2 separate regions of the Homo sapiens genome follow, and region 1 is linked to region 2. A link means that fine-mapping ties the variant in region 2 to the expression of a gene that starts in the linked region. Tissue or cell type: fibroblasts. Region 2 holds a variant in brackets; the other region holds the start of a gene. All regions are shown on one strand. Distances are from middle to middle.

Region 1 (5,582 bases), 750 kb before region 2:
GATGAGAGAATCAGCATGTGCTCTGCTCCTTGGTCCACGGAATGTATCTTCATGTTTTTTCCTAATTTAATGCATTCTACAGAGCAAATCCAACCAGGAACTATTGTCACTTTGATTATTACCCACTGTATTACTAACTTCATTATAATACACTTAAAACATCTGGGAAAAATTTCAACTAGACAAGCTTTGACTTACCATGAACTTCTCTTAAGAAAATTCAGGTAGGCAAAGCAAATCAGGAAAGACAACGGTCTTGACATAGATTTTTTTTAATTAGAAAAAATATTGATGTATACTTTGTTGTAAATGGAACATACCCTTAAAATATCCAATTAAATATCTGCTTTTAGGTTCTTGTTTATTAAGACGAACGAAATTTGAAATGACAAAGATGAAAAGGTCTATAAGAAAATATAACTTTAAGACAACATAATCTCATTTCAAGAACAAATAGTGTATTCTGAAACACATTCCTTTCTCCCAAAAAGCAAATAACAGTAATAAACACTTCCCGACAGTTACCAATAGAAACCAATGCCTATATTCTTAAAAGGAAGGATTATGTTTGGGGGACTATCTTTAAAGAGGATGCTGTTGAAAACATTTTTCATTGGCATTAGTGCACATTTGGCCCTTTCTGAAGTTAAGAGATTAAACTGTCCACTAGTAAAAATGTACTCTTATTTAATTTGTTCACAAAAATTAAACTAGGATAGTTTTGGGACCTTGTTTCATCTTCAGTGCTAATGAAATAGAATCTATTCGTGTAAAAATCTCAAAGCACAAACCATATTACAAATGCTAGGGGAACCAAAACAGTTTGGTAATAAGAAATGGTCCAGCAGACTAACGGTTTCTTTTAAAGAGTCTCAGCATTTCAAATCAGTTGAAAAAAAGGAAGTATTAAGAAATGGTATTGGGACATAGGCTAAGCCTTTGGAAAAGCAAATAAATCTAGCTCCCCTCCTACCTCAGTACTGAAAATTCCAAGCGTACGAAAAATTTTAACTTAAAAAAAAAAACCTTAAAATTACTACAAAAATGAGTACATTTTTTAAAACACTGGGAGTGTGGATAGCTTTCCAGCCTAACATAAAACCCATAAGCCTTAACAGACAAAAAAATTGACAGACTACCCCCCAAAAAATGCACTAAAAACAACATGCACAAAAGGCAAAGTGAGAAAAATATTACATGTACGACGTGCAAAAGGCTATTCTTATTCAATATTCAAATACCTCTTCCATACAAATAAGAAAAAGATTTAACAACTCAAATTTCTAAAAGCCAGGCAAAGATAAACAGGCAATTTACCGAAAAAGGAACGCAAACGTCCAGTAGTTAAACGCAAAATAAACTCGCAGCAAGATACCAATTTCTTCACTCCACAGATGGGCAAAATTTTAAAGAACGCGGGCAACTATTTCCCCCACTTCGATGAGAATGTGGGAGAAGTGCAACTGAAGGCCAAGGTAAAATCCCATCACTGAGAACGACTCCCAAAGTTGGAGCAGTGACTACTTTCTCAAAACGAGACAGTGGGAGATGCGGCGGGCGGGGGACGGGGGTACAAACTTGAACAGAAACCTATGAGAAAGCCAGACTGGCTAAAAGGATGAAGACGGTGCCCGCATGCCCCGCACCGGCCACTTTGCTGAGCGGAGGATCCGCTGGTCGCCAGTATCCCGCTCACCCCGCGCCTGACACTGACCGGGATAAAAGACAGCTCAGGTGCGCCGTCGGCGAAACTATCCGAGCCAGGCGCGCGTCTGCGGCCTTCTGGGCTCTCCTCCCTCAGGCGCGGACCCCCGGCTGCCCGCCCCTCACAGCCCTCAGCCCTCACCCCTCACAGCCCTCACAGCCCTCACACACCAGCCCCACTCACTCGGCGTCCGGGCGCCGCCGCTCCCGGCGAGCAGCTGGTGAACCTGGACGCCCGCCCCGCCGCGTTCCAAGACCGCGAGGCGCCCCGGCGAGCAGCAGAGTTGGCGCGTCACCTCCACCCTCCGGAGCAGCGCGCGGTGGAGGCCCGCGGCGCTGGGAAAGAGCCAGAGCTGTGCGCCCGGAGACTTCGCGGGCTGGGTCGCGGCGGCCTTGCCCGCGGTCGAGCGCCCGTTGCGCCGCGACTTCCTCCGCGACCTCCGCTCCATCGCCGCTTTGCGGGGTCCCAGGCCCAGAGGCGAGAGGAGAGAACGCCTGGTCCCGGGACTGAGCGCGCCCACTGCCTCAGGCGTTGCGCTGCAGAGCGGGAACCAGCTGCGCGCAGCTGCGTGGCGTCGGGGAACCGCAGCCTCAGCTACTGAGCCCCTGCCGGGACGCCACGCCCCCCACGTGCTGTTTGGGGGCGGGGCCTGCAGCTCCAGTGGAAAACGAAACATAATGTTTGTTGTTGTTTTTAGGGGGCGGAATCGAAAAGGAAAAGGAAACTGTAATGAGAGTGACTTGGCAGGCGGCCAAAGGCAACAGGTCGTTGGCTGGGGTAAAGGCCGATGGGCTGGACTGAGAAAGTGTCCCCGGGCGGGCAGCGGCCACCTTAACTCCTGGACGGAATGGCTTTCGAGGAAACGCTGCAGTTCCACTAGGAGGCACCCTGACACACGCATTTCCAGAGGGAGGGATAACGGAAGCCAAAGTTTGTTAAGCGTTGTGCGCCGCGGCCGGGCGCGGTGATTCACGCCTGTAATCCCAGCACTTTGGGGGGCCGAGGCGGGCGGATCACGACGTCAGGAGATCGAGACCATTCTGGCTAACACGGTGAAACCCCGTCTCTACTAAAAATACAAAAACAAAATTAGCTGGGCGTGGTGGCGGGCGCCTGTAGTCCCAGCTACTCGGGAGGCTGAGGTGGGAGAATGGCGGGAACCCGGGAGGCGGAGTTTGCAGTGAGCCGAGATTGCGCCACTGCACTCCAGCCTGGGCGACAGAGCGAGACTATGTATCAAAAAAAAAAATGCGTTGTGCGCCGGGCTGAAACCGGCATAAAACTGGGCAGAGCTATGCAGGCAGCTACCCTCCCCCCCACCCCTACCCCCACCCCCACCCCCCTCGTGCCCGCTCCGCTACGTATTCCCGTATTCCCGGGTGCCTGGCAACAGTGATGTGCTTTAGGCCTTTTTTAGAATGCATACAAACGGAACCATATCTAAGTGATGTCTGGCTTTTTTAACTTAGCACAATGCTTTGAGATTCATACTATTGTGTTTAATTAGTAATTCATTTGTGTTATTGTTGAATGGTAGTCTATCATATGGGTAAGCCACAGTTTATTTATCCATTCACCAATTGATGGGCCTGTCGGTTGTAGGGAACAGGAGAAAACTTCCCCTTTGCCCTCTGAAGGGTCACCGAAAATCAACTGACAAGGCTGGGCCTGGGCTCCTGCCTGTAACCCCAGCCCTTTTTTAGCCCAAGGCAGGAGGATCTCTTCTTTGTGAAGTGTGTATTCAAATCTTTTGACCATTTATTTATTAGCTAGCTTGACTTTTTATCTAAGAGTTCTTTATATATTATTGAGTTCTTTATATGTTTCATACCATGTTCTTTATTAGCTATACGTTTTGAAATGTTTTCTACCTGTCTGTGGCTTGCCTCTTCATTTTAAGTGTCTTTTGAAGCACTGAAGTTTTCAATTTTGATGTAATTTATCCATTTTTTTCTTTTACATAGTTCATACCTTTTTTGTCCTACTTAAGACATTTTTGCTAAATTCAAGATTATAAGATTTCCTCATTTGTTACCTTCTGGAAGTTTTATAATTGTTGGTCTTCATTATATTTAAAATGAATTATTCTTTATAGTATCGATAGATGCTGGAGGCAGATAAGGGAGGGTCCCTGGAGAATCTCTGACCTGCCTCACAAGCTTTTGTGCAGCTGAGGAAGCCTGCCCAGGGTCTTGTCTGGGCATGCCCACAAGGGACTTGGGGGCCCACTGCACCAGGAGAGTGGGGTGCAGCCAGAGGGAATTCAGCCTTATGCAGCAGGGATGAGCAAGAAGTCTTCAGCTTGTGTGTGTTGGCCTGTTATTCAGTCTGTGAGCTGGGAGCCTGTTGGCAGGACCCTCCTTGTTTTTTTGCTAAGAGCTTTTAATAAATGCCACTCTTCACCTTGCAATGTATTCACATGCCTAATTGTTCCTGGTCATGAGACAAGAACCTGGATTTTAGCTGAGCTAAGGAGCAAAAATTCCTGCATCAGTATGAGGTAAGAATAAAGGTTCTTTTTTTTCCTTATGGATTTCCAGTCGTTCCAGCTTGCCTATCCCCATGGAATTGCCTTGGCATCCCTGTCAAAACTCAGCTGGCCGTATATTATAACCTCAGAGCCAGCCCAAACTGGCCCTACTCTGTTGATAACAAAATGGCCAGTTACCCTGTAGGTATAACAGAGCCAAAACTGCAAGTTATGTAGACTGGGCATGTGCCATGGAAAAAGCTTTGACCTCTAACAATGAAACGGGAAAGGTTCCCTTGTCCCCTTCGTAGGGCATGCGGCAGTGGGAGTGGGTCGCTTCTTCAGTGCCCCACTGCTCACACCTCTAGGGGAGCATACAGACAGGCAGGTTTTGGGGCTCCAACCCCACGCCAGTGTCTAGGGGTGGATGTTTACTGCTCCTGAAGCACCAGTGGGCTGTGCTACTGTGTGCTTTTTTAGTTTTGCTGTCTATAGGCACTTGTGTTAACCAGCTCAATTAGACCCTCTACCTTGTCACAAGGACAGAAGACTTTCTGTATCCCAGGTTCTTGCCTTGGTGTACCAGAAGAATTGTATCACATGTGGGCTTAGAGAATGAGTGCACGGTTTTATTGAGTGGAAGTAGCTCTCAGCAGATGGGGGAGCCAGAAGGGAGTTGGTTTTCCCCTGGAGTTGAGCCGCTCAGCGGCCCAGGCTGTCCTCCGACTGCCCTGGCCAAACTCCGCATTGTTCTGCTGGTCGATGGCCTGCCAGTGCTAGTGCCTTTAGAATGGTACTTGCCACACAGTACCTACTATAAGTAATTATTCAATGAATTAATGAATCCCTTAACATTCAGATTTTTCAAATAAATTATTCAGCACTTTGCTAAAATAAAAACTCTAGAGATATTCCTGAATATAAAATATATATCTAGCAAGGTTAGGGATATAGGAAATGTTGCTTTACATAACATTGTTTTATTAAAAATATTATTCTTGGCTCACACCTGTAATCCCAGCACTTGGGAGGCAAGGCAGGAGAATTTCTTAAGCCCAGGATTTCAAGACCAGCCTGGGCAACATAGTGAGACCTCGTCTCTTAAAAAAAAATTATTCTTGATTCATCACTTTATTATTTATCCAAACATTTTTCAACTAATTCTCTTTTTTTAAATTGTAAATTGGCAATTTATAATTGTATACATTTATGGGGAACAAAGTGATCTTATAATTTATGAATAACAATGTGGAATAATTAAATCAAGCTAGTTCCCACATCCATCACCTCAAATACTTAACAATTTTTGTGGTGAAAACATTTGAAATTTTATCTCTTCGGTATTTTGAAAAGTGCAATACTGTATTGTTAATTATATTTACCACACTGTGCAATCGAACTCAAAAA
Region 2 (5,582 bases):
ATTTCCCTCTACACACTGCTTTGAATGTGTCCCAGAGATTCTGGTATGTTGTGTCTTTGTTCTCGTTGGTTTCAAAGAACATCTTTATTTCTGCCTTCATTTCGTTATGTACCCAGTAGTCATTCAGGAGCAGGTTGTTCAGTTTCCATGTAGTTGAGCGGTTTTGAGTGAGATTCTTAATCCTGAGTTCTAGTTTGATTACACTGTGGTCTGAGAGATAGTTTGTTATAATTTCTGTTCTTTTACATTTGTTGAGGAGAGCTTTACTTCCAAGTATGTGGTCAATTTTGGAATAGGTGTGGTGTGGTGCTGAAAAAAATGTATATTCTGTTGATTTGGGGTGGAGAGTTCTGTAGATGTCTATTAGGTCCACTTGGTGCAGAGCTGAGTTCAATTCCTGGGTATCCTTGTTGACTTTCTGTCTCATTGATCTGTCTAATGTTGACATTGGGGTGTTAAAGTCTCCCATTATTAATGTGTGGGAGTCTAAGTCTCTTTGTAGGTCACTCAGGACTTGCTTTATGAATCTTGGTGCTCCTGTATTGGGTGCATATATATTTAGGATAGTTAACTCTTCTTGTTGAATTGATCCCTTTACCATTATGTAATGGCCTTCTTTGTCTCTTTTGATCTTTGTTGGTTTAAAGTCTGTTTTATCAGAGACTATGATTGCAACCCCTGCCTTTTTTTGTTTTTCATTTGCTGGTAGATCTTCCTCCATCCTTTTATTTTGAGCCTGTGTGTGTCTCTGCATGTGAGATGGGTTTCCTGAATACAGCACACTGATGGGTCTTGACTCTTTATCCAATTTGCCAGTCTGTGTCTTTTAATTGGAGCATTTAGTCCATTTACATTTAAAGTTAATATTGTGATGTGTGAATTTGATCCTGTCATTATGATGTTAGCTGGTTATTTTGCTTGTTAGTTGATGCAGTTTCTTCCTAGTCTTGATGGTCTTCACATTTTGGCATGATTTTGCAGCGGCTGGTACCTGTTGTTCCTTTCCATGTTTAGCGCTTCCTTCAGGAGCTCTTTTAGGGCAGGCCTGGTGGTGACAAAAATCTCTCAGCGTTTGCTTGTCTGTAAAGGATTTTATTTCTCCTTCACTTATGAAGCTTAGTTTGGCTGGATATGAAATTCTGGGTTGAAAATTCTTTTCTTTAAGAATGTTGATTATTGGTCCCCACTCTCTTCTGGCTGATAGTGTTTCTGTCAAGAGATCTGCTGTTAGTCTGATGGGCTTCCCTTTGTGGATAACCCGACCTTTCTCTCTGGCTGCCCTTAACATTTTTTCCTTCATTTCAACTTTGGTCAATCTGACAATTATGTGTCTTGGAGTTGCTCTTCTCGAGGAGTATCTTTGTGGCGTTCTCTGTATTTCCTGAATTTGAACATTGGCCTGCCTTGCTAAATTGGGGAAGTTCTCCTGGATAATATCCTGCAGAGTGTTTTCCAACTTGGTTCCACTCTCCCCATCACTTTCAGGTACACCAATCAGACGTAGATTTGGTCTTTTCACATAGTCCCATATTTCTTGGAGGCTTTGCTCATTTCTTTTTATTCTTTTTTCTCTAAACTTCCCTTCTCACTTCATTTCATTCATTTCATCTTCCATCACTGATACCCTTTCTTCCAGTTGATCACATCAGCTCCTGAGGCTTCTGCATTCTTCACATAGTTCTCGAGCCTTGGTTTTCAGCTCCATCAGCTCCTTTAAGCACTTCTCTGTATTGGTTATTCTAGTTATAGATTCTTCTGAATTTTTTTCAAAGTTTTCAACTTCTTTGCCTTTGGTTTGAATGTCCTCCCGTAGCACAGAGTAATTTGATCGTCTGAAGCCTTCTTCTCTCAGCTCGTCAAAGTCATTCTCCATCCAGCTTTGTTCCGTTGCTGCTGAGGAACTGCGTTCCTTTGGAGGAGGAGAGGTGCTCTGCTTTTTAGAGTTTCCAGTTTTTCTGTTCTGTTTTTTCCCCATCTTTGTGGTTTTATCTACTTTTGGTCTTTGATGATGGTGATGTACAGATGGGTTTTTGGTGTGGATGTCCTTTCTGTTTGTTAGTTTTCCTTCTAACAGACAGGACCCTCAGCTGCAGGTCTGTTGGAATACCCTGCTGTGTGAGGTGTCAGTGTGCCCCTGCTGGGGGGTGCCTCCCAGTTAGGCTGCTCGGGGGTCAGGGGTCAGGGACCCACTTGAGGAGGCAGTCTGCCCATTCTCAGATCTCCAGCTGCGTGCTGGGAGAACCACTGCTCTCTTCAAAGCTGTCAGACAGGGACATTTAAGTCTGCAGGGGTTACTGCTGTCTTTTTGTTTGTGTGTGCCCTGCCCCCAGAGGTGGAGCCTACAGAGGCAGGCAGGCCTCCTTGAGCTGTGGTGGGCTCCACCCAGTTGGAGCTTCCTGGCTGCTTTGTTTACCTAAGCAAGCCTGGGCAATGGCGGGCGCCCCTCCCCCAGCCTCGCTGCCACCTTGCAGTTTGATCTCAAACTGCTGTGCTAGCAATCAGCGAGACTCCGTGGGCGTAGGACCCTCCGAGCCAGGTGCGGGATATAATCTTGTGGTGCCCCATTTTTTAAGCCAGTCGGAAAAGCGCAGTATTCGGGTGGGAGTGACCCGATTTTCCAGGTGCGTCCGTCACCCCTTTCTTTGACTCGGAAAGGGAACTCCCTGACCCCTTGCGCTTCCCAAGTGGGGCAATGCCTCGCCCTGCTTCGGCTCGCGCACGGTGCGCGCACCCACTGACCTGCACCCACTATCTGGCACTCCCTAGTGAGATGAACCCGGTACCTCAGATGGAAATGCAGAAATCACCATCTTCTG[C/T]GTCGCTCACGCTGGGAGCTGTAGACCGGAGCTGTTCCTATTCGGCCATCTTGGCTCCTGTCCCTGATAGCTTTTTCATAACGTTAAAAGTGAGTATGTAAAATGATTTGAATCACACTTTTAAAACCAAAGATAAAGGCTAAGACAAGATTTTCCAGATACTTGGTAAGATTTGGGGAAAAAAATTTCTGCAAACAAATTTTAAAAATCCATACTGGAGAAAAAATGAGGTAATATAATGAATACTAAAGTCATGTTTTAAGGAATGTTTTATCTGGAGTTTACCATCTTATAACAAATATTTTTGAAGCTGAAGTTAACACCTGTAATGGTATCTGTAGGTCAGTGGACTGATTCAGAGGCAAAGGGCTGTTTTGCTTAAATATCATGCCACCTAATTAGACTCTACACTTTTTAATTTAAAAAATTCTAGTTTCTTTTTAGTTAGAATTAAAATGAACATGAAAATTGATAAGCAAATATATAAAAGAGCTATAATATGTAACTGCTTCTTATCAGTCACTGGTTATTTATTAAATATTTATTTGTGTCCACAGTTGTGCCAAGTTCTAAGGAAATGTGAATGAAATATGAAAACATGATTTTAAACTTTAATAGACTTTCTGTTAATTAGGGGGAGGGATGCAAAACAACAATTTTGTTTTGTTCTGTTTTGAGACAAAGTCTCACTTGTTGCCCAGGCTGGAGTGCAGCAGCGCCATGATGGCTCACTGCAGCCTCGTCGGGTGATCCTCGCACCTCAGCCTCTCGAGTAGCTGGGACCACAGGCATGAACACCATGCTCAGCTCATTTTTGTATCTTTTGTAGAGACAGGGTTTTGCTGTGTTGCCCAGGCTGGTATCGAACTACTCGGCTCAAGCAAACCACCTACTTCAGCCTCCCAAAATGTTGGGATTACAGGTGTGAGCCACTGCACCCGGCAAAAACAACAGTTCTGACTATATCATTTCAAAAATTTCCAGTGACCCCCTCTTTTAACCAGTGATACCATTACATGGTATTTAAGGACTTCCTCCATGTACACTATCCCACAGTTCTCCTCCAGACACTCTAAAGCACAGTTAGACGACAGTGGCTCATTAGTCCTTGATAGTGCCCTCACCAGACTCCACGCCTGTGTCAGGCAGTGCCTGCCAGAGTGCTCTCTCTCTCGGTATCAGAATCTTCTACCTCAGTTAAATGAATCATTATTTCTTCCTCATTCCCTTCGTGGTAGAAGTAAGCCTTCCCTTGTCTGAATTCTTTTAGCTGTCTTTATTTCTCATGGTACTTTTTAAACTCAAAACACTACTATAACTATTTGTCTATATTTCTTATTTGCTCAACTAATATTACCTTAAGGGTTTTGTAATAGCATACTTGTCTATATATCTCCATATATGTTGCTTAACTCAGTTTCTGATTTATAATATGTATTTAAACATGTAGTAGTTGAATGAATGCACATTTGAAATAATTAGGCAATAACTAAGAATAATAATTGTGTGGCACTAAATGCAGATAACAAGAGAGTAAAAGGAATTTGAAGGAGAGGGTTAAATCACTTGAAAGTGGGCTATAATAGTCTAAGCAGACTAAATGGAGGATTTAAGCTTGGTTTGGATCTTTAGGGCTGATGGTGCAAATTGGAACCAGAGTGGCTAAGAACAAATAGAAGTAGGAGTGTGGCTGCCAGATTAGAAGAGGAGAAGAAAGAAAACAAAAGGTAAGGATACAAGAGGAAAGTTTCGGGAATTACCTAATGATATGGCTAGGCAGGAAACACGCAGGCCATAAGACCAGACTTGATTAGCTGGAAGCCCAGAAAGTAAGCTCTGCTTTCAGGATTCAGGCTGTTTGTAGAGAAGTAACATGTTCAAGAGAAAAAGAATGGAGTTTTGTGTTTAAAAAGGGCTGGATCTGATATCAGTTTCACTATCGTTTTTGTTAGGCATGGGATTCACTAATCCTGCGTTTTCTCATCAATAAAATGGGAGTTATAACTCCCACACAATTTGGTTGTTATGGGGGTTAATTAAGATACTATGTGGGAAGTTCTTGACACAGAGCTCTCAGTAAAAGATGACCATCATTAATGTTTGCTATGGGCTCCAATTTGAACACTTGTTAGGTATGTTGTCTCCAGTCCATTAGCAGCCAGATGGTCTCTGGGACTTGTCCTGTTCCTGATTATTGCAGAAAAAGCCTTTCTCAAATTAAGATGGAGATCCTGATAGAAATGATCATGATGATGATGATGACGATGAAAATTATAACAGAACTTATAGTAGCTAATATTAATTGAGTGCTTATTATGTGATAGGAACCATGTTAATTGTCTCATAAGAATTACAGCATTTAATCCTAACAAAAATGTGTATTGTAAATGAAACAACTGGGACTGATTTTTGAGCATTGTAGCAGGGGTCCTTTGGAACAAAATGTGTCTAGATCCCAGGAATCCCAGTCACTAGAAATACAGTGGAAGCCAGAACAGGGAGGCCAGGCGCAGGGAAAAGGCCCCTAGATGAAGAGACTTACCCCACCATGGAATCCAAGACAGTAGTCAAAAGGGGTAGGAGTCTCAGATCTGACCAAGGAGGGGCTTTCTACCAGGGACTCTGATCCAGCAAGCAGGCCAGGGTATGGGGGAGCCCAGGCAGCAGGCACTGCTTTAGGCAGGTGGTGGAACTGTGATTCCAAGCAGGGGCCTTCTCAGCAGCAGGAGATTACAGGAAGCAAGATACTGCCTCCCTGGGGAAAGA

Which allele goes with the higher level. Positions count from the first base shown, and alleles are read on the strand shown. Sizes are in standard deviations (SD) of each study's normalised expression.
As copies of C replace T in region 2, the expression in fibroblasts of the gene that starts at base 2,304 in region 1 goes down (moderate effect, 0.66 SD a copy in GTEx).

What was found. PIP is the estimated chance that this variant, and not a neighbour inherited with it, causes the effect.
Region 1: HERC5 starts here. The variant in region 2 is fine-mapped to the expression of HERC5 in fibroblasts (GTEx, PIP above 0.99).

Annotation. Positions count from the first base shown.
Region 1 is chr4:88,453,841-88,459,422 of GRCh38, reverse strand. It overlaps HERC5 (HECT and RLD domain containing E3 ubiquitin protein ligase 5), which reads right to left and starts at 2,304. Exons shown (of 23, transcript NM_016323.4): 1 at 1,889-2,304; 2 at 1-76. The coding sequence starts at 2,153. The region is part of intron 1 of LOC102723458 (a long non-coding RNA gene); the gene reads left to right. RefSeq lists an enhancer at 2,245-2,674.
Region 2 is chr4:87,707,672-87,713,253 of GRCh38, reverse strand. The region is part of intron 2 of DMP1-AS1 (DMP1 and DSPP antisense RNA 1); the gene reads left to right. Among named protein-coding and RNA genes, the nearest start is that of DMP1-AS1, 22 kb to the left of the region's middle. RefSeq lists an enhancer at 1,989-2,591. The variant C/T (reference allele first, on the strand shown) is at 2,817.